Linked DNA regions of Homo sapiens. The protein of the gene in region 3 interacts with the protein of the main gene of each other region in a biochemical or structural test. Each region holds a gene or a part of one and is shown on either strand. Other genes may lie near its edges. The genes, in order: MAP4, SHROOM4, PDZRN4, PLCB2, MTNR1A, DLG5 and CYTIP.

What was found.
Region 1: the proteins of PDZRN4 (region 3) and MAP4 interact in a test that uses a peptide from one of them, tested with the Homo sapiens proteins (one large-scale study listed by IntAct).
Region 2: the proteins of PDZRN4 (region 3) and SHROOM4 interact in a test that uses a peptide from one of them, tested with the Homo sapiens proteins (one large-scale study listed by IntAct).
Region 4: the proteins of PDZRN4 (region 3) and PLCB2 interact in a test that uses a peptide from one of them, tested with the Homo sapiens proteins (one large-scale study listed by IntAct).
Region 5: the proteins of PDZRN4 (region 3) and MTNR1A interact in a test that uses a peptide from one of them, tested with the Homo sapiens proteins (one large-scale study listed by IntAct).
Region 6: the proteins of PDZRN4 (region 3) and DLG5 interact in a test that uses a peptide from one of them, tested with the Homo sapiens proteins (one large-scale study listed by IntAct).
Region 7: the proteins of PDZRN4 (region 3) and CYTIP interact in a test that uses a peptide from one of them, tested with the Homo sapiens proteins (one large-scale study listed by IntAct).

What each region holds. Positions count from the first base shown.
Region 1 is NC_000003.12:48,013,617-48,017,636, forward strand, and holds the start of MAP4 (microtubule-associated protein 4), read right to left. Parts: upstream 2,801-4,020; 5' UTR 2,718-2,800; exon of another isoform or gene 2,705-2,717; intron 1-2,704. UniProt on the Homo sapiens protein: Non-neuronal microtubule-associated protein. Promotes microtubule assembly.
Region 2 is NC_000023.11:50,629,195-50,632,694, forward strand, and holds part of SHROOM4 (protein Shroom4), read right to left. Parts: intron 1-3,500. UniProt on the Homo sapiens protein: Probable regulator of cytoskeletal architecture that plays an important role in development. May regulate cellular and cytoskeletal architecture by modulating the spatial distribution of myosin II.
Region 3 is NC_000012.12:41,194,820-41,198,319, reverse strand, and holds part of PDZRN4 (PDZ domain-containing RING finger protein 4), read right to left. Parts: intron 1-3,500.
Region 4 is NC_000015.10:40,287,409-40,290,935, forward strand, and holds the end of PLCB2 (1-phosphatidylinositol 4,5-bisphosphate phosphodiesterase beta-2), read right to left. Parts: intron 3,430-3,527; coding exon 3,353-3,429; intron 3,265-3,352; coding exon 3,169-3,264; intron 2,675-3,168; coding exon 2,617-2,674; intron 1,951-2,616; coding exon 1,864-1,950; intron 1,532-1,863; coding exon of another isoform or gene 1,511-1,531; coding exon 1,307-1,510; 3' UTR 501-1,306; downstream 1-500. UniProt on the Homo sapiens protein: The production of the second messenger molecules diacylglycerol (DAG) and inositol 1,4,5-trisphosphate (IP3) is mediated by activated phosphatidylinositol-specific phospholipase C enzymes.
Region 5 is NC_000004.12:186,535,862-186,538,567, forward strand, and holds part of MTNR1A (melatonin receptor type 1A), read right to left. Parts: exon of another isoform or gene 2,384-2,706; intron 1-2,383.
Region 6 is NC_000010.11:77,808,256-77,811,755, forward strand, and holds part of DLG5 (disks large homolog 5), read right to left. Parts: intron 3,366-3,500; coding exon of another isoform or gene 3,329-3,365; exon of another isoform or gene 3,214-3,328; intron 2,980-3,213; coding exon 2,839-2,979; intron 1,476-2,838; coding exon 1,292-1,475; intron 1-1,291. UniProt on the Homo sapiens protein: Acts as a regulator of the Hippo signaling pathway.
Region 7 is NC_000002.12:157,441,290-157,445,531, reverse strand, and holds the start of CYTIP (cytohesin-interacting protein), read left to right. Parts: upstream 1-1,442; 5' UTR 1,443-1,511; coding exon 1,512-1,685; intron 1,686-4,242. UniProt on the Homo sapiens protein: By its binding to cytohesin-1 (CYTH1), it modifies activation of ARFs by CYTH1 and its precise function may be to sequester CYTH1 in the cytoplasm.

The DNA.
Region 1 (4,020 bases), on a different chromosome or scaffold from region 3:
CCCCTAAGACCCTCAGTGTGAATATGAACAACTATCATTTCATATTATTTCATATATCAAGTATTCTCATTTATAATTGGGTTGAGGTTTATTAAAAAAAAAAAAAAAAGCTTTTTGGCAAAGGGAGGGACTGAAAACAAATTCACCACTGCATGGTGCCCTGCTTGAGCCAATCTGACTGGAGCTTAAGAAACTCCACCCAGTTCTGGCTAACATCAAAGGAGACTCAACACCACTCTGCCAGAAAATAAGCCCTGTATTATCTAACCAGGCACTAAGGGAACACACAGTTTTCAAGCACAGCACTTTGTATATCTGATCTTTCATTCTGATGACATGCCTGAAGTGAAACTATTAGTGAGCCGGGTTTTTTAAAATAGGTAAACTAAGGCAAGAGGCAACTACATGGCATGATGATAAAATACTCTCTTGACTACAATCTCACTATTAAGAGCTAGGTGCTCATAAACAGGAAATAAGGATATATGATGAGGCCACAGTACTTTGTTGTATGCTTTACTTTGGATAGTTCACAAACTCTGGAATTAATTACTGTACTAAAAATATTTTACAGGTCTATACAGATTAAACAGTGTTAATATCTAACTTAATTACACAGAAGTTCTGAAGAACCTTTTAAGCTCCATGAAGTCCTCCTGAAAATTTTAGGTCATTCGCATCTAGAGCCACTCACTCGGGGTCTGTGCTCATTCTGTCTGATGAGAAATTGGCAATCTGGTTTACCAATGGCCTGTTGCTGTCTCTGTCCTCTTCTATTCACCCCTTGAAAGGTGCTACTATGGGAGCTAAAATGCAGGGAAAAAACTCATGAAAAGCTAGAACAGAGCTTGGGCAAAATGGCAAAACCCCATCTCTACAAAAACATGTAAAAATTAGCCAGGCATGGTGGCACATGCCTGTAGTCCCTGCTACTCAGGAGGCTGAGGTGGGAGGACTGATTGAGCCCAGGAGGTTGAGGCTGCAGTGAGCCACTATTGCACCACTGCACTCCGGCGTGGGCAACAGAGTGAAACCCTGACTCAAAAAAAAAAAGCAAGAACAGAAGCCTGATTCCCACCATCATACTCACTTTTCCTAACCACTGTGTTAGGAAACCTTCATTTTACTGTGTCACATTAGCCAAATTTCTACCGACATTCATTTGCAGTAGCCAGCATTCTCTTTTTAAAAGTATAGAATCCTATTTCTTAATTTAAAAGTGGGTAAGAAAATGTACATCCCTGGAAAGACCATTGTTCATCCCAGAGATGGTTCTATTGAAGATGTCTGAGTTCTTGGTTCTGGTGTGAAAAAGGAAGAAAAATATTATGGCAACATGGGAACTTTCAGGGAATAAAGCAGATATAGATATGGTATCAAAGTAGGGAAAGGGTATACAGGCCCAGGAGCCCTAGGAGGCAAAAGAAAGGGAGTTAATACCATGCCAAAGACAAGCTTGCTATCTTTCAAAATATCGCCTCCTGTCAGTTTCAGCAGAAAGAAATAAACTTTCTTCTCAGTGACCTAGGCTACTTTGAGGCAAATCATTTTGAGTTCCAAACAACCCATTTAATAAACTTTAAATAATTATTACTAAAGGTAGGATACTGCTTATAATGCTCACTTATATTTTCTCTATAACTGATAGCCTGTCCTTTTTGGGTGGGTGGGGGCGGGGGCGGTTATGGACAAGACAAGGAACCATAAAGATATCTGGGTTAATGTTTTCTTTTATACGTTTGTTTTTGCATGACATTTAAATGACAGAGAATTCTAAAGCCAACACTAAGCTGCTATCCTAGGACATTAGTGAGAATGCTGTGGCCAAAATATAGTGCTCATTCCTCAGGCTTGAAAGGAACCCCACGTCGCCAGTGTGGGAGATCATTTATAATCTTGATGGATACAGGTATAGCCTGCTTCATAATAATTTAATATTCAACATCAGATTTTTTTTTAGTATGCCTAGCAGGTTTTTAGTTACTAATTAACTTTATTACCCAGATTTGTTTCTTACTGAACTTCTTTCAGAGGCCTGTTATACATCAAGCTGAACTTTGTCTGGCAGCTGTGCTGTTTTTAATTTATTTAACCACAAAACCTTGATTTATACTTTCAAGCAAAATGATATTTTACTTAAAAATAAATCTTTAGCAAGGATGTCTACAGGAATCAACTACCAACTTACACAGTTCACAGACACATATGATTCCTCAGACAAATCTGAATTTCTCCTGCTTCTCCTCCAAACCAGACTTGCAGATAGCAACAGACAACTGAGGAAGATCTTGACTATCCTGAGCAATAAACTACAACCCCCCTGAAGAATATATTAACTGTCCACCCCTAGGTTCCTCCCTACACAGTTCAAGGACAACAGCTGTGCTATTACAAACTGATGGAATTTCCAGGCTTGACAGGGTTCTGTTCGTAACCACCATTTGTCCTGTTCATCATAGGATTAGCAACAGCAGAGAGCCCTTGATTACTAGAATAGCTGAGGCCATCACACAGCTACATTCCTACATGAAAGAACACACTGATATAGGTTTAAAGAAGTTATATTTTACTTTCATGTAGTTACCAGAGTCCCCCCCACCCCCCATTTAAGGGAGCCCTGTTCTCTGGATATAAAAATACTGTATACACTTGCACACACATACTCACATACATAAAACCTTGCATCACAAAGTTAAAAGGCTACCTTGCTTACTTACAGGAACTATCCAGGCAGCTTGTGTTCAGTCCTGACTAAATGCATTTTGGATCAGGCACCTGCCTTCAACATTTCTGTCCAAATGAATTTCAATCTATTTCTCCAGGAAGAACACACCAGATACCTCCCACTGTTAGCCATGTGATACAGGCAGCATGATGTCTGAAGTCTGGTTACGGTTATGTAGGCCAAAATAAGAAATGACAATGACACAGCACTTACATTTCTGATATCACCAACCTTAAGAATGAATCTTCCATTTTATCTAAATTTTTTAAATGAGTAAAACTTTAAAAGATTCTTAATACCTAACCCCTCAAAATTTTGAAAAAGGAGCATTTTTTTTAAACTTTACATTTATCCCACTTCCTTCCTCTAACACAGGAAAACATTCAGAGTTAATCTATACCAATCCAAAAATTATTTCTAACCACATTCTAAAGGCATTTTTTTTTTTTTTGAGACAGGGTCTTGGCCTGTTGCCCAGGCTGGAGAATGCAGTGGCATGATCTCAGCTCACTACAACCTCCGCCTCCTGGGTTCAAGTGATTCTCCTAACTCAGCCTCCTGAGTAGCTGCGATTGCAGGCATGCACACCACCATGCCTGGCTAATTTTTGTATCTTCAGTAGAGACGAGGTTTCATCATGTTGGCCAGACTGGTCTCAAACTCCTGGCCTCAAGTGATCCACCCATCTTGGCCTCCCAAAGTGCTGGGATTACAGGCATGAGCCACCATGCCTGGCTCTAAAGGCTTACACCAGTTGAACTGATCTAGGATCCAATCCCCTCACTTTAATAGATGGAAAAAAAAATGAGAAATGGAAAAAACAAGTCACTTACAAATGAGGCTGAGACAAAGGATCGGCGAAAAGAGCCACAGAACACCAAAAACAGAAGCAGAGCGTGACAAAATAAGCAAAACCTTACAGTTTTGTAGTTTCTGCTTTTATCTAACACAATGACTTCGCTGTACTTCATATACCTTTTGAATTATACCTGCTTATACATACCTTTACCTACCTACTACTTATACCTACCTATCTTTTCTTCTGCAAGGAGGGAGGCAGGCAGGAAGAATCCTGAACATCAGGAAAACATTCCACCTGATCTTTAAAGGGACCCCAATGCCTAGATGTCTTTTTCTTTTTTCTTTTTTTTTTTTTTTGTAAATCCAAACTCTTACGTGTAATATCAAGGCTGACTGACAAGACTCAGTCCTATCACCCACCATAATCATCAGCAGCTTTCCATGTAGGGTCTCCCTACAATTTAGTCACATGGGACCATCTACCATCTTACATT
Region 2 (3,500 bases), on a different chromosome or scaffold from region 3:
ATCAAAGAGGCAGTTATCCCCACCGCTTGCTGCAAATGGAGATTGTGATGGGAACTTGCTGTCCCAGTGGAAGTGATACTGCTAGAGGGCATCCGGCCACACTAGAGAGGGCCTGGGCTTTGCAATCAGCTTATGGAGAGGCAGTGTAGCACAGTCAGGAGCTTGGCCTCTGGAGCTTGATAGCATGGATTCAAATCGCACACCTGCCTTTCACTTGCGGCCTCAGGCAAGCCATTCAACTTCTCTTTATCTCAGTTTCCCCAACTATATAATAGTATAATCACGATAATAATATTGCTTGAGAACTCAATGACTTGATACATGTAAAGCATCTAGAATAGTACCTGGTGCCCAGTAGACACTGAGATGCTAGTTACTGTCATGTTATTCAAATTCTGGCTCTGCCACTTGCTAGATGTGTGACCTCTCTGAGCCTTGGCTTTCTCAGCTTCCTCAGCTGTAAAATGGGAGATCCTATTATAACTTATCCCATACAATTGGTAAGTGAAATAATTTGACAATGAATGAAAAACAAGCTGGTATGAAGGACGTGAGTGCATGCTGATTTCAGTCTTCACAGCACTGAACAGGAGACAATTAGTTCACCAACCTCGTCCAGGGGCATTAGGAGCAGGATCTCAGCCCTACTTCAGATAGCTACCACCACAAGTACCTGAGTCATCAGAGCGATGGCATCTTAACCCATGCTGCAAGTTTTTCCCATTTCTTGAGGGGGGTGGAGTAGGAGTGGAAGGTTCAGATGATGGGCAGAAATGGGCATGTGGTGTCTCCTAGGCAGCCATCCACGTGTCGGAATGCCTAGTATCTAAGCAGACCTGCTTAGCTGGTCTAACAAGCATTAGGAACCCAAGGTATCCCTCCCTCAGAGTACAAAAAATAGAGGCATGGTGTAGGCACAGCCTCACCCGCATGCATTACTGCTGCCAATTGCTGCAACCTGCAAATCGTACCTCCATCTCTTATAGAGCTGCTGGTCCTGGGCTGACACCGCTGCAGCCGTCATCTCCTCACTTCCCCCGCCCCACTCACCCCCAATCTCAGCCCCCTTTGTCTACTGTCTATCTGTGAGTCCTTCTTCCAGCAAAAGTCTCTCAAGCTAAGCCAAAATGTCCCTTTAAGAGATGATAACTCACTTATAAGATGATTACAATCTGGCAGTCACTGCTCTGAGTCTTAAATGTGTTACATCACTTAATCCCCACAACCAACTTATGAAGTAGGTGTTGTTACTACCCCCATGCTTTTAGATGGGAAAGCTTAGGCATTGTAAGTTCGGGGGAAGAAATTCAAAACCAGGCAGTCTGGTTCCAGCTTCGGTGCCCTTAAAACCATTATTTTATATTTCCTCTCCTCTTTTTTTCAACATTATGAATATATTCAAACATACAAAAATGTTGAAAGAAGTTCACAGTGATCACCCATATACCCAGCACCTAGATTCTACAATTAACATTTTGATATATTTGCCTTATCATATATCCATTTACTCCTCTATCCATCTACCAATCCATCTTAAAATCCTGGTGCATTTTAAAGTAAGTTGAAAACAACTATATCCCCATAAATTTTAAAATGTAAATGAAATGGACAAATTTCTTGAAAGACACAAACTACTAAAGCTTACTCAAGGAGAAATAGATGACCTAAATGTCCCCAAATCTATTAAAGAAATTGAATTTGTAGTTAAAAAGCTTTCTACCAAAAAACCTCCAGGCCCAGATGGCTTCAGTGATGAATTCAAGCAAACATTTAAGGAAGACATTTTATACAAACTCTTCCTGAAAATAAAAGAGAAGGGAATACATCCCAACTCATTTTTTAAGGCTAGCATTACCTTGATACAAACAAACAAAAAAAACAAAAAACAGAAAAAGATGTTATAATAAAACTATAGACTAAAATCCCTGATAAACATAAGGGCAAAATCCTTAACAAAATATTAGCAAATCTAGTAACATATAAAAGGATAATACATCATGACCAAGTGGGATTTATCCTGGCAATGCTAGGCTTCTATTTATTTTAAAAATCAATCAATGTCATTCACCACATCAGTAGACTAAAAGAGAAAAACTATATGATCATCTCAACAGATACAGAAAAAGCATTTGAAAAAAAATACAACATCCACTTCTGATGAAAACTCTCAGTAAACTAAGAATAAAAGAGATTTTCCTCAATTAAAGGGCACCTACAAAAAAATCCTACAGCTAACATCAAACTTTATAGTCAAAGATTAAGAAAAAAGCTACAATGTCCACTCTTACCATTTCCTCCAAACATTGTATTGAAGGTGAGAGTGCAATAAGGCTCTTCTCTCTCCCAGAAAAGGGCATGTACAGGAGAAAGGAAGACACTAAATTCTATTTGGAGATGGCATGATTGTGTATGTAGAAAATGTTTTATAATCCACCAAAAAGCTATTAGAACTAATAAGTGAGTTTGGCAAGGTTGCAGGATACAATGTCAATACACAAAATTCAATTATATTTCTATAGACTAGTAATCAAGAATTTCAACTTGACATTAAGAAAATAATACTCTTTATAATAGCATCTAAAAACATAAAATCTTAGGGACAAATATCCCTGGTGGTTGGGTGGCTAGGATTCGGCGCTTTCATAAAATCTCAGGGACAAATATAACAAAATATGTACAAGATTTGTATGCTGAAAACATAAGTTGAATACAGCAGTATACTTCAAACACACTTCAGCATACATATTAAATAAAGTTTAATATTTGTTTACAACATTTTTAGGCAAAATTTACTTCCAGTGAAATGCACAAATACTAAGTGCATTGGCTGTCTAGGAGCCTTGCTATACATTTGTTGAGTTCTGACAGGTACATATGTTTAACTCAAACTCTTACCAAGATATAGAACATTGTCACCACCCCACAAGTTCCCTCTGCCCTTTTCCAGTCAATCTCTGTGCCACCTCCCATTGGCGAGCAGTGTTCTGAATTTGTTCCCCCATAGAATAGCTGTTTTAGAATTTCATATAAAAGGAATTGTAGAGTTCATAGTCTTTTGTGTAAGGCTTCTATCACCCTTGAAGTTCCTTTTTACCAAGGATATATATTGAGCAAATTCAGATACTAAGTCATTTCAAAAGTGTCTGTGTATGCAACAGCTGAACACAGGAATTAACTTCTGGTTTGAATGCACCGGCCAAAAGATGGCATCAGGGATGCCATGGGGAAGTAATCTGGCAGTGAGTAGGCAAGGACCTAGGGAGTCCTCCCAGAAGTAGCCTGGGGGATGGTGGTAGCTTGTGTTATGGTAATAGGTCATAACCGGGATATAAGAGCAGCCAGTTTAGACCTGGGTCTCCAACAGAGACAGGATGGAGAAAGGGGAAAGGATTTGTCTTTTTAAAAACCCAACAAGTCAGATCTCTGAAAGCAAAGCCTGGGGATATTTGCAAGTTTTGCATCTCTAAATACTTCTGAAGTAGAAAATGGGAGGCAATAAG
Region 3 (3,500 bases):
GAAGAAAGTGTAAACAAAGAGCCATGAATGATTATCCACCCTTTCCCACTCTGGAGTTATGGTTGCATTGCCTGCTATCAGTATCATAGAAATAAGAGAGGAGACTGGGCACTATGGCTCACGCCTGTAATCCCAGCATTTCAGGAGGTCAAGGTGGACAGGTCGCTTGAGCCCAGGAGTTCAAGACCAGCCTGGGCAGCATGGTGAAACCCCATCTCTACAGAAAATTTTTAAAAAATTAGCCAGGTGAGGTGGGGTGCACCTGTAGTCCCAGCTACTTGGGAGGCTTAGGCTGGAGGATACCTTGAGTCCCAGAGGTAGAGGCTGCAGTGAGCTGTGATCATGCCACTGCATTCCAGCCTAGGTGACAGAGCAAGATCCTGTCTCCAAAAAAAAAAACCCAGAAAAAACAAGGAAAAGAAGAAGAAGAAGAAAGAAAGAAAGAATAGAGGAATCGATGCTAAAAGCAACAGTGAACTTTGTTTCTCAACTCCCTCCCACATACCACTTAGGCATCCTAACATGATGATAACTACAGCAATGGTCATGCCTTCTTCCAGAATTGTGCCCAACCTTCGATAGGATCAGGGATTTTCTGTGATTCCTTTGATTCTTGAAAGAATGAAAAACAGCATGCTTTTATTCAGCTGTATACTGTGGTGAATTCTTGGTGTATGTGAATTTCTGTGATGTTTCAAAATGCCTTCAACAATATCTTCTGCCTTTTCAGTCTCCAGTGATATTTTGACACCTAGTGTAACTCAACTATCACAACTGATTTTTTAAAATTTACAAGCATAAATAGTTTAACAAATATGGATGTGGAAATAGCTAGAAACTGGTTAACATAGTTGCTTGTGGAGACTGACTCCAAAAATTAACTTGCCTTATATTATGTGAAAAATATGACATAGGTTTACCTAATGACAGTAATTTTTTATTCTTTTATTATTCTTGAATTTTATCAATAGAATGCAAATATTAAAAAATAATACGTGTTACTAGCCTTTGTTGAACTGTGGCAAAACTATTATAACTAATATATTATTTATTAGAGTTTATAAAATCTTTTTAACCACCAACAGAACAAAACCTTTAACATGTCTACTTCCTCTTCAAGTGAATAACTTTGGAAAATTTTATTATTTTTTAAAAACAATTCATAAACTTGTATGTGTGCATCAAGCAATTAGCTACAGAAAATATTTTTGAGCATATCTTGACTATATATAAACCATAGAATCTCTTATTGTTTTTATTTTTTATTTCAGTTATATATCAGTAAATTCAAAGCATTTAGTAATGTGTCAGATTGTGCATAAGTCATACGGATAATTTTATAATATATGAACTAGTTTGTACCCTTTACACTGTTAACAAACTTACTTGTTGCACCAGGTTTAAATCAGCATGACCATTTGAAATTCAAAAATTGAGCCATTAAATTTGTTCAATGAACAAATCTTTGATCACAAAACAGAAAATAAATTATTATCTTTACTTTAAAAATCTGTTTTAAAATATGCATCTGCACATTTTAAATTGATAGATTTCTTCTCAATTTCCAATTAGCTAAAAACTGCTTAAAGTTGATTGATATCATAATGACAGAGAAACTAAAATAATGATAAGCATCAAATATTTCTAACTTTAATGATTACATAGGGATCTTTTACAACACACACCATATGCACAAGAAAAAACACACTTCTTGTTTAACTAGATATTAAAGTCACACAAATATCTATTCACTCAAAAAGCCGATAGCATCACTGAACAACTAAGCAAGAGCAATTTATTTCTAATAATCTTCTTTCTAAAATATTTCATGCTATTTAACACACAACATTCTAGAAATATGCACCTCATCTAACCCATTTCTTAACTGCAAATGTGGTCACATTGATCCATTCTACAACTATAGCATATATACATAAAATCAATGTACCCTGGTATAAAAGACACATTGAAAAATCTATATCATTGAGACAAATTTCAAGCTCTAGTCATTAACTGCTAATATATGCAAATGAAAGTGAATAATAATACCGCAGCTAGTTAAATTTCATTTGAATTTCTGTGGTTGACCTCCTTACTTTTTATCTTACAGGGTTTAAATAAGGTTAATCTGACATATATTAGTAACAGTACTATGTAGGTGTCTAGATGCACTTGATTTTCAACCATAGTTTTATAAAATTACCTCTTTAAAAAAAACAGTAGGTTTGTAACCAAATTGTTGTATGACAATATAAAAAATTCTTTTTCTTTTCTAATGTAACATTAATGAAGCATACATAATATTGTCATCTAGCTAGAATAAGTTATTTTTTAAATTGCCAATACGTATTTCTGTTGTGTCTATGTGTTTGTGTGGGTGTAACAATATATGTATTCAGTTCCATCAGTTCTTCTAATAATATCAAATGTAGGAATTTATTTTCCATTGGTAACTGGACAACTTAATATGTTTTTGAGATAATGCAGAAAGTAATAGGGACAATCTTCTGTTTAAAGTATGTTGCCCTTTAGATCATACTGTGCACATTCTAACTTTAGAAGCTACAGCATGTGAATGTTTCCACTAGACAAATTGTCAAGATGAACTGGATAGCAACAGCAAAAGTAGGTCTGCACTTTCTCGGCAACAAAACTGGAAGAATAAAAATCTTGATACAAGAGACCTCTTTAGATATAAATCAAAGTTTTTTTTTTGGCAAAAGATAACTCTTCTTTTTTTTCTAAATTTTGTAGTCGGCTAATTTATAAATGTTGTGTTCTTTTTTCCCAAAACAGCAAACTATTGGGTCTTCTATATTCTTCACTCTTACTCTATGTCGATTCATTAAAAATTCAACTTTGTTTAGTGCACAGAGGATGAATGAAAAGCTAAAACTTTATTTAAAATTTAATATAGAAAATCTGCCTCCATTCTGATAGTTTATATAAGTATTCAGAGAGATAGCACTAGTGATTATATAGCCTAGAGTGAACAGAATTTTTAAAAACAATAGTGGAGTCAAGTAAACCTTCCAAATTCCTATTTATAGCTTCACTAATCCATTGGAAATAAACTCACTGATAAAAGTAACTTAACCATTTTTGGCAACAAAAAGTAATATTATCTTAACCAGTTAATAAAATGTCAAAAGGACAGAGATGGCAGATGGCAGGGACATAAAATTTCATTAACATAACCCAATTTTACTAGCATATAGGTGCTCACTTTATCACCCCCGAATACAACAATACAGTTAAAACATACAAAGAGTTCTCACCAGGTTTTCACAACAAAGAGAAAAAAAGGTATTTCTCTTTTTCTTTCATATAAAAGATAATGACAGGAACAAGGTAGCCATATTACACCAAGAAATATTAAAAGTATTGTATAATTTATTCCAAACTCTACATATAAAATATTAATTACAAATTTAAAATATAATCATAGTTCCTCATCAGAAATGTTCCTCAACAGAGATTTATCATCCTTTTTTGAAATG
Region 4 (3,527 bases), on a different chromosome or scaffold from region 3:
CCTAAGCCAGTGCCTGTCCCTATTTGGGATTTGGGATCATGTCATCGGTGCAGTGAGTGGCTGCCCACAAGCCCCTCCACAGCAAGTTTTGAGGTCAACCATAGCTGCCATAGGGTCCTGAGCATCCAACCACTCTGTCTTCCTAAAGGGGCCTAGATTGCCTAAAAGTTTGGAACTCCCCCTAAAATAGGGGACATCTTTGCACTCAGCTCTTCTGCTCCAACCCCGAGAGTGGAGACAATGAAGGGCCACATCTGTGTGGGGGCGAAGAGGGGGTGACATAATTTTCCAGTGATTGTGGCATCAGGGCCAGCAGAAGGGGAAATGAATCCTCTTCAAGTCCAGAGGCAGGGCCATTTCACTGGACTCTGGAAAGGACCTCACCCTGGGTTCAGCTCCCAAGAGATTTTTTTTTCCCCAGCCCGTTTCATTTCAGGGGCACTCCACTACCCTGCCCCCATTTTCTACCTGTAGAATAGAGACCAGGCTTAAGCAGGAAACACTGGGACGAGGTTCTTTAATAGGAGTAGGAAAGAGAAAAATAAATAAACCTCATAAATTCAGGAGAGCAAATGATGCTGACCTTGTCAGGCAGGCAGCCTGAGAGGGGTACATGGTAGGAACTGCCTGCCCCCAGGCCTAGGAAGAGGGGTGAGCCAGGGTCAGGGTGGAACAGCACCCAAGAGCCCACTGCCCCTTGTGACTCAGCCAAGCAGGGCCAAGGCAGCTTTTCCATTTCAGCCTCCCGTTCCGGACAGGCAGAGGGGAGGGGAGGGCCCTCAGCCAGGGAGTGGCCGTCCCCAGGGAGCTGTGAGGTAGTGCCAGGATCTGCCTCAAGGAGTGGACAAGGCCAACTCAGGGCAGGCCTGATGGGGCCTGGAAGCCTGGGGCAGGAGGGTTCGGGGCTAGAGTGGAGGTGAGTGGGTCCAACCCTCCAGGTGAGGAAACTGAGCCCAGAGCTGGTTGCTCAATAGGAAAGGCAGAGTGGGGCCAGGATCCCACTTTCTGCCTTCCAGTCCATAGTCTTTTGCCCTCAACAAATATATGACACTTATCTAGAGATGGAGGGGGAGGTAGGAAGTCAGCTTGAGAAGACTTCTAGGCCCCAGAGAGGCCCTGCCGTGAGGGTGCCTGGGTCCTGTCTCAGACTCTGGCCTGGCCGTTGAGGAGGGGGCTGCAGCGTCCAAGGCAGCCACAGGTTCCCACAGCCTCAGAAGGCTGGGGCTCCTTTTTCCTGGGGGAATAGAACCACATCCCAGAGAAGGGGCTGAACCTCCTTGCTAAATGTCCCAGTGGGATGGGGGCATCAGAGGCGGCTCTCCTGGGCATCTGCCTTTGCTATGAGTGGGTCCTGCTCACACAGCTCTGGGGGGCACTCGCAGGCCCTCTCAGGCTTGTCCTTGGCCTCGGAGGGAAAGCAGGTCCTGAGGCAGGCCCTCACCGACTCCTTCACCTCTGCCTCCAGACCCTTCATCCTGGCCTCGTACTCTGCCAGCGCCTCCTTCTGGAACTGTGGAGACAGCAAGGACCCCTGCCTGGCTCAGGAGGGGCCTGCTGGCCACCCTCGCTCCCTGGACAGTGGGAACAGGAGATGCCCAATATCCATGTTCGGAGCTCCCAGGAGACTGGGGTGAGAGGCAGGGTGGGGGAGTGGTAGAGCCCATCAGGAGCCTCTCAGGAAAGGGGATCCTAACCAGGCGGAGATCTGCAGAGCTGCCTCATTTGAAAGGGCCTCGGGACCCCACAGTGAAGGATGATGGCCCCCTTCCCCTACCCTCTCACTGGCAGCTCCCTGGGGCAAGGCCCCTTTACAACCCGGAACCCATTCAGTTCTGCTGGGGGTCCCAGTAGTGAACCTGTTACCTGCTTTTCCATCTCCCGTATCTGTTCCAGGCAAGCCGCCTGCTTCTCCTCCAGCTTCTCCTGGTGCCTCTCCAAGTTCTCCGTCATCTGGGTGGGAGTGGATGGCAGAGAATCAGGACAACACAGACAGGCAAGCTGGGTCAGAATCCAGCTGTAATCCCAGCTAACTAGTTGTAAGACTTTGGGCAAATTCCTTAACATTAGGTAGTTTTTAAAATTTGTAAGATAAGGATAGCAGCACCTGTCTCACTGGACTGTAAAAGATTATACAAGACAGCTCATGTGAGGCACCTGGCAGAGTGCCTGGCACAGGTCAGGACCCAGTAGGTGGCAGCTGTGTTCTGTGGTTAATGATCCCTAGGGGAGCTTCAGGTCCATTATTCCTTGGCACCTCAGGAAGCTTCCTCACTCCCTCTTCATCCCCTGACCCTCGCCAGTCCCAGCCTCCCCTGGCCCTGATATGGGCCAGTTAGCCCATATCATTTCCACACATGAGAACTGGCCAGAGACAGATCCCTTCAGGCTGGTACCCCAACCTCCATACACAGGCCAGAACCCCAGGATGTCCCCTGCCACCCCAGCTGCATGGACAGCGCTAGGCAGTGCATCTCCTAAGGGCAAAGTCAGGGCCTGGGGCCACCCCTTCCTACTTGTGAAGAGAGAGAGAGAGAGAGAGAGAGAGAGAGAGAGAGAGAGAGTGTGTGTGTGTGTGTGTGTGTGTGTGTGTTTAGGAAGGACACAGCCCTTACACACCTGCTTGATCACCTGCACTACTTCCTGGATGTGGGAGTTGTTAATCTCTCTCTTCAACCTGTTGGTGTAATTGGAGTTTTAGAAAAGGGAGAAAACCCCTAGGGAGAGTAGGGTAACATGAAGTCTACGCAGGATGTAGGCAAATGAGAAATCCAACATAGGGCAGGAACCAGCTGGGGGCAGGTGTGGGGACCCAAGGAGTATGTAGGGGCCACTGGGAGTCCTGGGGCCCTCTGAGGGAACCATTTCCCCATCAAAACACACTGTCCTTCCGTGGGAAACAGTGCCACCACAGTGGACAGGCTACAATCCCAAGGCCTCAGCTCCCTCCCTGCAGGCTTGGCTGCCTCCAGAGCTCTGCCCATGTAGTGTTGGCCTCCGTGTTTTGTCTGAGGAGGACACTCTGATCAAAGGTGACAGGGGGGATCCGCTTTTTGGAGAGCCAGGGGACAGATGCATCTTTGGGAAGTGAGTCAGGATCCATTTGTAGAGAGGCCCCTTTCCACCTGAAGTGGGGTCTGCCCAGCCCTGGGCCTCCCCTCCAGGGCTCACCTCTCCTGGGCCATCTTGTCTGTGGTGACTTTGGTCATGCCCTGGATCCGCTCCAGTCTCTTTGTCTCCAGCTTTTTCTTCATCTCTTTGGTGTCGCTGCAGAGAGACAGGCATGAAGGAGCTGTTTTGTGCGGCTGAGCCCTTGCTGGGAGGCGAAGCAGGTGTGGGAGGGAGGCAGTCGTACTTCTCCGACGTCTCCTTCAGGGCCTTCAGCTCTGCCGCCTGTTTCTCTCTGGCCAGCTCCATCATTTTGGAGATTTGCTGCAGGGAGAGGAAGTAAGCTTGGCGAGAAGCCCTTTGTTGTTCAGAGGGAGTACGGGGGGCGGGGGTCGGTGGAGGGGAGTCGGTGAGGGGGTTGG
Region 5 (2,706 bases), on a different chromosome or scaffold from region 3:
GAAATGCCAGAAGCCTTTGCTCATTTGCCCACCTAGTGGTAAGAGCTTCCTCCTTTGAAGGGTCTTAAAGCACTTTATACTGCTTTTTACTCAGATTAAATTATAATAAATTCAATTCAGTTTACATATTAAATGCATATATTTGGTGCAGGGGGAAACAGGAATTGAGAGACAGGAAAAGTCAAAAAGATTACACTAGAGTGGTTGGGCGCAGTGGCTCACACCTGTAATCCCAGCACTTTGGGAGGCCAAGGTGGGTGGATCAACTGAAGTCAGGAGTTCAGGACCAGCCTGGCCAACATGGTGACACCCCGTCTCTACTAAAAATACAAAAATTCGCTGGGCGTGGTGGCGGGCACCTGTAATCCCAACTACTTGGAAGGCTGAGCCAGGAGAATTGCTTGAACCTGGGAGGCAGAGGTTGCAGTGAGCAGAGATCGCGCCATTGCACTCCAGCCTGGGTGACAAGAGCAAAACTCCGTATCAAAAAAAAAAAAGAAAAAAAAGAAAAAGAAAATTACACTAGAGTAAGCAGCAGCACCAGAGCACGCACAGACCAGAAGCTGTGAGGAAAGGGGTGCGCTGGACAGGGACAGAGGGAGCCCCAGGTGGACGGACAGAAGATTTCGCCTTCTATTCTATTGACCTGTAGGCCAGGCTTCCCTGCGTCTCCAGATGGTGGCCCTCGTGAGTACATTTCCTCATATTTGCGTCCTAGACCACACCCAATAAATACAGTGACTTTTGCTCATACACTCAATGAGTTCATTAAACTGTCACTTCCCAATATTTGAAATGAGACAGCCCATAGCAGTCAAGATGAGAGAAAGGCAAAATTTGTGCCATTTATTTAGGAATTTCAGATAAATTGTCATAAAAGCAAATACTTTAAAAATTGGTTGTATTCATCCAAATTAAAGTTACAAAGGCAAATTTATTTTCCCACAGATCACTTTCAATTAGCGTTGAAACATTTAAATTCCTAAGAGGTGTATTTTAATAAATTATTTAGCTCAAAATGTTTAATGCTTTAAAAGCATCTATAATATGTGAAATTCTGTTCCAAATCAAACTGTCATTGTAACAGCACATTTGTTCCCAGAGTGTCATGATGACAAACTGGCCTAATATGGATTTATTTTTAAAAGAGCTTAAAAATGAAATCACAAATGATGTCATAAATTTCTTTCATGGCTCGAATACCCTGCTTCATTTATTTTATAGTAATTATGTTGCATTACAATTCAAGCAATTACATTAATTAGATCATTGATTCTTTGAATTAATCCCATTTTACAAATCTTGGTGAAAATTAATTAAGCCACAGACTCCCCACAGGTGCGGCTGTCAGGTAGCTCACATAAAGCTTTAGCACCAGTGTTCATGTGTGCCTGGGGGGTGTGTGGTGTCTGGGCGGAGAAGGAAAAAGGGAATTTCCTTTTTTCTTTTATGAACTTCACCAGATAAGAGTCATTAAATCATCTAATTATAATTATACACATTATAAGTTCATCTATTCCATTCTCAAATCTATGTAACTCCAGACATATGGACAATCTACCCATTTTTACAGATATCCAGGACTGTATGCAACAAGCTTAATAATGCATTCTGAAATGTAAAATAATGTCTGTTCATGGGTAAGAATTTCTTCTCTGTTGAATATAGTTCCAATCCTTACTGTGGCAGAATCATAGAATCATAGGATGTTAAAATTGAGAGATGGGTTAATGATCTCCCTGGATAATTCCTACTTTTTAAAGATGAGAAAACAAAAATATAGAGTTAAATTGGATGAAGTCGTACGACTACTTAGTGAAAGAGTCAGGATTATACCAATGCTATGAACTGGTGAGTGTTGTTCAATGTTATTTCCCTGAGAAAGCTCCTGTGCTCCTACAGATACGAGACTCAGAAACTGGGCCCTGTGGCTACGTCCTGGCTTACAGCCTCTCCAGGCACAATTCTGAAGAAGCGTATTTGAACTAGAACATTCTAAAGAGAAGATGGGGGAGGAAAACACCTAAGTCAGTATGCTGGCAACAAGACGAACAGCGATCAGCCTTGTGGTGATTAAAGGCACCAACTATAAAATGCACAGTCAATATTTGTTCCCAGGAATAAAACCTTAAAGTGGAAGTGAAATATGGCACAGATATGAATAAAATAAGGTAACAGACAACTAAAATGTCAGCTTGCTGGGAGTACCTTCCTCAGAACTAGTCCTGTGAGTCCCTTCTGGGAATGACACAGCAGCACGACGTTGCTTTTCTGTTTATCGCGATTATGTCTCTACTTCTCCCCATCTCCCACAGCCCCAGCTATCACCTCGGTGAGGACACTGCCTGTCTTAGATATCTTCTCCCTCCACCTTGAACAGTACCTGGCCGAGGGTTAATCGATGCACAGTGGGTTTATATTGTGTCAACTTCGCGAAGCTGAAAAGACTTTTCCTTGCACCGCTCCGGGTTAGTGTTCCCCACAAGAGGCAATTGCGTGAGATTTTGAAGGCGGAAGTGCAGCAGTAGCTTGCTCTCTGCCCTCAGTATGTCTGTGTCAAGTGCCAGACGCCACCACAAGCTCGGCACTCCGAGTCTCATCTGCTGCCCTGCAGGGGGTGGGTGACGGCAGTGTGCTCACAGCTTCTCCAGCTCCTGCTCACCTCCTCCTGGCTTGAGATTCGACCATCCTCCAGAGCTCCAGTCC
Region 6 (3,500 bases), on a different chromosome or scaffold from region 3:
GTTGCCTGTGCTTTTATTTATTTATTTTCTGAAACAGGGTCTCCCTCTGTCACACAGACTGAGTGCAGTGGTGCAATCACAGCTCACAGTAGCCTATACCTCTTAGGCTCAAGTGATCCTCCCACCTCAGCCTCCAGAATAGCTGGGACAACAGGCACACTCCACCACACCTGGCTAATTTTTTTGTTTTGTTTTCTGTAAAGACAGGGTCTCACTATGTTGCCCAGGCCGGTCTTGAACTCTTGGGCTCAACTAATTCTCCCACCTTGGCCTCCTAAAATTCACAGGTGTGAGCCACCAAACCCAGCCCAACTTGTGCCTTTATATTCTCACAAACCATCTCCCCCATGAGGCAGGAGACCACAGAGAAAGACCATCCTCTCTCATCAGAACAGAGTCCTGCAGCTACATCACCTGAGGGCGAGCACCCCCTGATGCCCAGGGCCTGAGCCAAGGCTCTGCCCTCAGGTTCCCTCAATGGCCTGCCTGGCTTCACAGGGACCTCCTCAGAAGGGCTTGGCAGGATTCTGGGTTTACAGGGATTAAAAATCAACCCTGGCCAGGCACAGTGGCTCACGCCTGTAATCCCTGTACTTTGGGAGGCCGAGGCGGGTGGATCACCTGAGGTCAGGAGTTTGAGACCAGCCTGGCCAACATGATGAAACCCCGTCTCTACAAAAAATACAAAAATAAATTAGCTGGGCGTGTTGGCGCATGCCTGTAATCTCAGCTACTCAGGAGGCTGAGGCAGGAGAATCGCTTGAACCTGGGAGGCGGAGGTTGTGGTGAGTTGAGATTGCACCACTGCACTCCAGCCTGGGCAACAAGGGCAAAACTCTGTCTCAAAAAAAAAAAAAAATCAATCCTGAGGCTGGACACGGTAGCTCATGCCTATAATCACAGCAGTTTGGAAGGCCGAGGCGGGCAGATCACTTGAGGTCAGGAGTTTGAGACCAGCCTGGGCAACATGGTGAAACTGGTCTCTACTGAAAATATAAAAATTAGCCGGGTATCGTGGCACATGCCTGTAGTCCCAGCTACTCGGAAGGCTGAGGCAGGAGAATCGCTTGAACCTGGGAAGTGAAGGTTGCAGTGAGCTGAGATTGTGCCAGTGCACTCCAGCCTGGGCGACAGAGCAAGACTCTGCCTCAACAACAACAACAAAAGTCAGCCCTGACTGGCTCACCAGATGAGAGGCTGTACTCCTCCGTCTTTGGTGCCACCTGAGATGGCAGCAAGCCCACTGTGCAGGTAGATGGAGGCCTGGCCTGCTCAGCAGCTCAGAACTCACCTCCAGGATGAGGTCCCCTGGCACGAGGCCGTCAGGACCCTTGGCAGGACTGTCATCCTCCACCTCGGCCACAAACACCCCATGCAGGTTCCCACCACACAAGTGCACCCCAAGCTCCAGCTGGGACTTTTTGATGAAGACAACGCGTGGCTCCAGGGTCTTCTTGTTGGCATCTCCCGCAATCCTTTCAGGAAAAAAACAAAGTTCCTCAACTGTGCACAAAGAGGAGGCACAAAAAGACAAAGCAGTGGCCAATGCCCTAACCGCTTTCTGCCTGCTTCTTGGGGTCTCAGAACCACAGGGAGCTGAGAGGTGGCCTCTAGTTCTACTGGCTCGGCGTTCGGGACAGGATGCTAAGGTGCACTGGAGATGAAGGCAAGACCCCAGGTCCAAAGCCAGTTAGCGGGGGCAGTCAAAACCGTAAATCAGTGCCCCTGCTCCCAGGCCCGGCTATCAATCTCATGCCTTAAAGATCAGGATGGCCTCCCTCCCATGTGGATCACACTCATTTTCCTAACTTAGTACTTCCTAAGGAAAGGTAAAGTTGGCCTCACTGTCCAGAGCACAGCAATGTATTCAGCAAATGTCTACGAAGAAGCTTCTATAGACCAGCAACTGCTAACTTGTGAAGAGGGGCCCCTTGCCATCAAGGCACTTACAATCAAGGAAGGGAAGCTGAAAGTAAGCTGCTGAACACATGGAGGGAGTGAGATGGGACAGCGATGGAAACAGATACAGGGGGCTTCAGGGGAGATGCCAGCCCGGGAGGAAAACCTTGCAGCAGGTAAGTTCCAATGTGACAGACTCTGGTATAGAGAATGCAGAGCTGGCCTCATTCTGTGAGATGCTGCCCAGGGCTTGGTGAAGGCCTCTCAGTGCTGGAGACACAGCTCCTCCAGGACGGCAGAGTGATCATGTCACACCATGGCCTGGATGGCCCTCCCTGCAGCCCCAGGCCAGGCTGGACGCTGTGCAGCTCCCATGGAGCTCCTTCCTCCTCCTGAACTCTGCTGCTCCCTCGGCCTGGACTTCTCTTTATGCCCACTCTTGGCTCTTGCCTGTCCTGAACATTTTAATCCAGCTGCCACCTCCCCTGCCACACTCCAGTGATCTTCCTGCCTGCTCTGCGGCGGCCGGCAGTGCCCTCCCAGCACCCTGACTCTGCTGCACGTGCCCGGCACTGGTCTGCCACCTCATTGGGGGAAGCACTGCTGTGGGTGGCCAGAGCCCAGGGCCTGGCCGGGTGATGACTGTGGGAATGTGTCCAAAGACAGACTCAGAAAGCGAGTGAACAAGAAAAGGAGAAGAGAAAGAGAAGATGCAGGGGAAAAAACAAGTCAATAGAAAACAGGAGAAAAAGAGAAAGGAAAAGAGAGAGTAGGGAAGGAAAAAAGGAATGCCGTGCTCCCGGCCCAACTCCTGAAGACCTGGTGTGCGGCCTGCAGCACATGAGGCCAGCTGCCCAGTGCCCACGCCACTTGGAGAATGTGCTCAGCCCCACCCAGCCGAAGCGGACACAGGGAAGGCTCACAGCAACGTCTGCTGACCTGGAGCTGCTCTGCTTGGCTGGGGGGGTGCTAGGCCCCTCGTCCTGCTCCATCAGTGGGTCGATGACAGATGGATGCTCCGGGGTGGTGGTGCCACTGCCCTGGAGAGTGGAGTGGGTACCGGCAGGGTCCAGGTGTGAGCTGGAGGCGGAGGACAGGAGGGATAAGGAGCAGTACGAAGCCACCCAGAGCCACCCCCACTCCTGTGGCAACTAGATCTGAGCTATAAATGGGGACCAGGTCACATAGCCCTGCACCCTGTGCCCTGAGCAGAGCAGACACATTAGAAGCCTGGACCCATGACATCCACCTGTCCTCTCCCCTCCACCTGTCCTCAGCTCAGGGGCCCTCTCCAAAGGCATCTGACCTCAGGAAGCTGTGAGCATCCTGTCTCTTTTCCTCTGCCTGTGCATCCCATCTCTCCTGCTGAGCTTGTGGCGCAGCACTGCAGGGCATGCCTCCCCTTCTTTTCTGCCCTTCAACCCACAGCTCAGGGGCAGATACAGACAGGTGTACAGCATCTGCTCCTGGACAGGGAGCCAAACACTTTGAGTGAGAATCCACCCCCGGGGCCACAACTCCTGGCTACCATGGGCCCCTGCTGGTCAGGGGGACCACAGCCATCTGTTTCCACACCCCATTTCAGGAGGAGACAGCCTCTC
Region 7 (4,242 bases), on a different chromosome or scaffold from region 3:
TCTCTCTCTGTCTTCCTAATACACACACACACACACACACACACACACACACACCCCACATATACCTGTATACATATCTGTACATATCTATAAATATAGATTTTACGTGAATATCTTTATAATTGATGTATTCTTTAGTTGCCAAGGTATTTACCACTCCCTTTTGCCTTACACATTTATGTTACTTACCTGGCTTCTGAAAACGTATGTGTTTTTAATTCCTGATTTAGACCGTTATATGTTTGTGGTGATATCACTTTGTCCATGTCAAAATTCAATTCCAGTATAATGAGTCATGCTGTGATAGAGTTTTTAAAATCTATAATTGGCTTCAACTTTTGAAGCACTATTAATTCAGATTTTACTATTTATATTTGGCAATTTCTACTTGAGTTGAATTCATCTTCACTTCCAGTACACACACATTTCATTTTAGTTCAAAGATTTGCTAACTCTTTCAAATGCTAGTATTGATCTTCAGAGATTTTAAAAAGCACATTTGACTTTTTGTGCCATATAAAACTTCTCTTTTTGACTTTTGTTTCGATTCTTCCTTTTACTTGCCTCCCCTACTCCTCCACTGAAACCAGTTCTCTCAAAACTACCTGCCCCCAACCTCAGCCAAAGGAAAAAAAAAAAAAGCATCTGTGATCTTGAGTACTTGGTGATGGTGCCCTTGACCCATATGCACATGCAGGGACCAACAGGCAATGTTCTTGGTGCCACCTTGGTTTGCCTGTTACCTTCCTGCCCACTCCTTTCCTCCCCTGGGACCACTTGCTGATGCTGCCGCAAAGTCTCGTCTAAGAAATGGCAACATTGTGCCCTAAATGTGCTGGCTTTCCCTTCCCATTGTACTTTGTAAAGATCATGGGTAATTTTTGTAAGGACAAAGTAGTAAAAGGACAACCAGAAGAATGCTGAATGGTTACAACCTCAGTGGCAGATATAATGTCTTTTTGATGAACATTAATGATCTAGGGTATACTTCAGGGAAAGTACAGTATTACAAGGACTTCGAGAGAGAACATTATGACCGGCACCTGTAATTCTTGCCCATATTCACAAGAACTGAATGTCCTCGTGTGCTGACTTCTGCATTGCATTGCTAATGTTAAGTAAGAGAATGGATGGGAAACAAATGGTAGCACTTGGGGACATTTTTCTTTCTTCTCTAAAGAAAAAAATGGCAAATGGTGGTGTGAATGCAACTTGCCACAGAACATAAAAGCGTAAGAATTCTGGCTGTTTGAGGTGAAAAAATAAGTTGATTTTTCTTTAAATTGTAAAAATTAGCTCCAGGTTCTCTCAGGAGCTTAAAGAAAAAAAGCTTTGAGAAATGGGAGTGAATAGCAAGATAGGGTTTGTGTAACAAGTTCCTCAAACCACAGAGGTCACATGGGCTCTTTCTGCTTTGCTACTTTTGATTACTTGTCACAGTTGTACTTTTAGCTTCCCCCATCCTGCAAGGCCACTCAACCATGTGCTAGCTGGAGTGATCTTTATTCACAATGTCTTTACAAAGGCTCCTGCAACACAGCAGCAATGGCAATTTGGCGGACTTCTGCGCTGGGCCAGCGTATAGCTCTTACTCCACACTCACCGGCAGCCTTACGATGGACGATAATAGAAGGATTCAAATGCTAGCAGACACGGTGGCTACTCTGCCTCGGGGACGAAAGCAGGTATGATTGCTATTTTGTACCCTTTAGAGTGTTCACATTCTCTTGAGGGCAGAGTGATATGTTTGTCTGACTTCATACTAATGGTGATATTTTAGAGGCTTTGGAATTACTGGCTGATTATTATGGGTGAAGGAGGTGAGATGCTCAGGGAGCTAGGTGAACCAGTCCAAAGATTTGAGACCACAATCAAACTTTTTTTTCAAGGCAAAAATTAAGATTGTTTTTCTTATTTGAAGAAGTGCTCAGGTAAAATAAACATCATTAAGCATAAAAAACTTGAAGATGGTTTATATAGATACAACCAGTATGAGAATTAATTCTCTTTTCCCCATTGTGTCTCCACTGATTCTTTCCCTTCCATCCTTACTTGCAGTCCTTGATGGTCATTTCAGTTCATAATCAAATAAGAAATACTTTTTCTGAGGACAAATTTTGTTGACTAATTATCTTCAGCTCTGGGTTGCTGGCACATACCTCAGGCTATTGGAAAGTAAGATTTTTTTTTTTTGGATAGATGAGTGCCAGATTGAATATCAGCTCACCACTTAGTGTCTGTGGGATCTTGAGCAAGCCACTTGCCTCTCTAAGCTTCAGTTTTGTTTTTTCTAAAATGGAGTTAATAATAGAACCACCCTTATTGGGTTCTTATGTTGGTTAAATAAGGAACTGTGCAGTGCCTAACACAGTGACTGGCATTCAGTGTGTGTTTATTAAATGCTAGATTATGCCATTTTAATATTTTTATTGCAAAGTTTGTCTCTAGGGATGAAAACTCATTTGGAAAAATCTATGTCTAACTGAATTTATTTTGATTTTTTCGTTCTTCAATTTCTAACATGTAAAAATTTTTTTTTAACCATAATACCTCTTCAGGATTTTTTTTAAACAACTTGCTCTAAATCCCCAGGTACATATTTGAATTTCGATGTAGCATTTCTACAGAAAATATTTAGAATTGCCCTAGAGCAAGAATTTTTGCGCTTAAGTCTTGCATGTACAATCATGTGCTTCTCGTAAGCCTTCTAAATTCAGGATTAGAGAGGTATGGCATAGTGGGAGAGACATGATCTTTTTTCAGTGATGTATAATAGCTGATTCCTTGGTATTTTTCGGAGTGAAGATAAGGGCACAATTTTCCATGATTTGGATTATTGATTGTTCTCAATCTAAAGTGCTTTTATGATACAAAGTTTAATGTAATGATGAACATTTTATCAATCTACAACCTGTCTGAAGATAAAGCAACATGAGAAATGCTGACATCTTTTTTCAGTTTTCAGATATAAAGCAGTCAGATTTTCTTTATATTTGCCATGACACTATCACACCAACTATGGTTCACTTGATTAGGCTATGATTTTTTTTTTTTTTTTTGCTGGAGACTGTGGGTACTTTTTCAATCAGGGTGGGAACTTTCCACCCTCTATGTCCTCCATACCTGCAACCTTACTCATTTGATCTACTCTCTAGCCCATGCAATTCAATGCAACAGATGGTTTCTGAGCACCTACAAGGAGACAGACATCATGCTAAGTGTAGGAGGTAAAAAGACGAGAAGGGAATGTTTCCTACCCATATACTGTTTACAATTCAGTAAGCAGAAAGAATGGGTTTTCTGCAAAGTAAAACAACATGAATACTCTCATCGAAGTGAAACATCTGTAAATATAGCCTTGGAAATAGATATTCGAGATATTGAAGGGTATTCCAGATATTGAAGGGTATTCCAGAGCAAGGGAGAAATTGAAGCTGAGGCATAGATCCTGGTGCCTGGAGGACTTTTTTGTGTAACAACACAATATTAAGTGTGTCAGGAGAACCTGGTTAGTGTGTAGGAGGTGAGAGGAGATCTCAGCGCTGGGCTGCTTTACAGAACACTTGGACAACTTCCCCTGAAAAAGCCGGCACGAGGGCCACTGAACGTGTTTGAGAAGTAGAGGATTTCAGGAACCTTATTGTAGAAATGTAGTGGATTAGTGAGTAGAGACTAGTGGTGAGGGAGGAACTTTTGCAGTAGTTGGAGAAAGAGGAAATGGGGGAACAGAAAGGAGACTGAAAGGCTTTAATATGAAAGGGACTGAAGACGGAGGAGTCACATCTGGTTTTAAGCCAGAGTGAAGATAGCGTGAACTGAAAGAAGGCAATCAGTAGGAGAGGCTGATTATCAGAGGAGGATAAAGAGAGGGATTTTGGCATATGAAATACACGTGTGTGTGTGTGTGTGTGTGTGTGTGTGTGTGTGTATGTGCATATATACATGTACACATATGCACACAGGCACACACACATCCCCATACTAATTAATTTATGCAGATGTTCTCATCTTTTCTAGGTCTTCTCATTCCCCTTCTCTCAAATTCTTTCATGTGGTAGACTTTCCATATTCAAACAGCTTTTTCTTACTGTTGTGAGAATTGCTTTAAAAAATAGCAAAACAAAACTTCTTGTACATGATAGTTCTGATTCCGTACAATTATCATCAATGAGACTTGATGCAAGTTTATCCCAACATTTCACAATCTTCCAAATGGATGTTCATTTCCTTTAACTGGTTTTT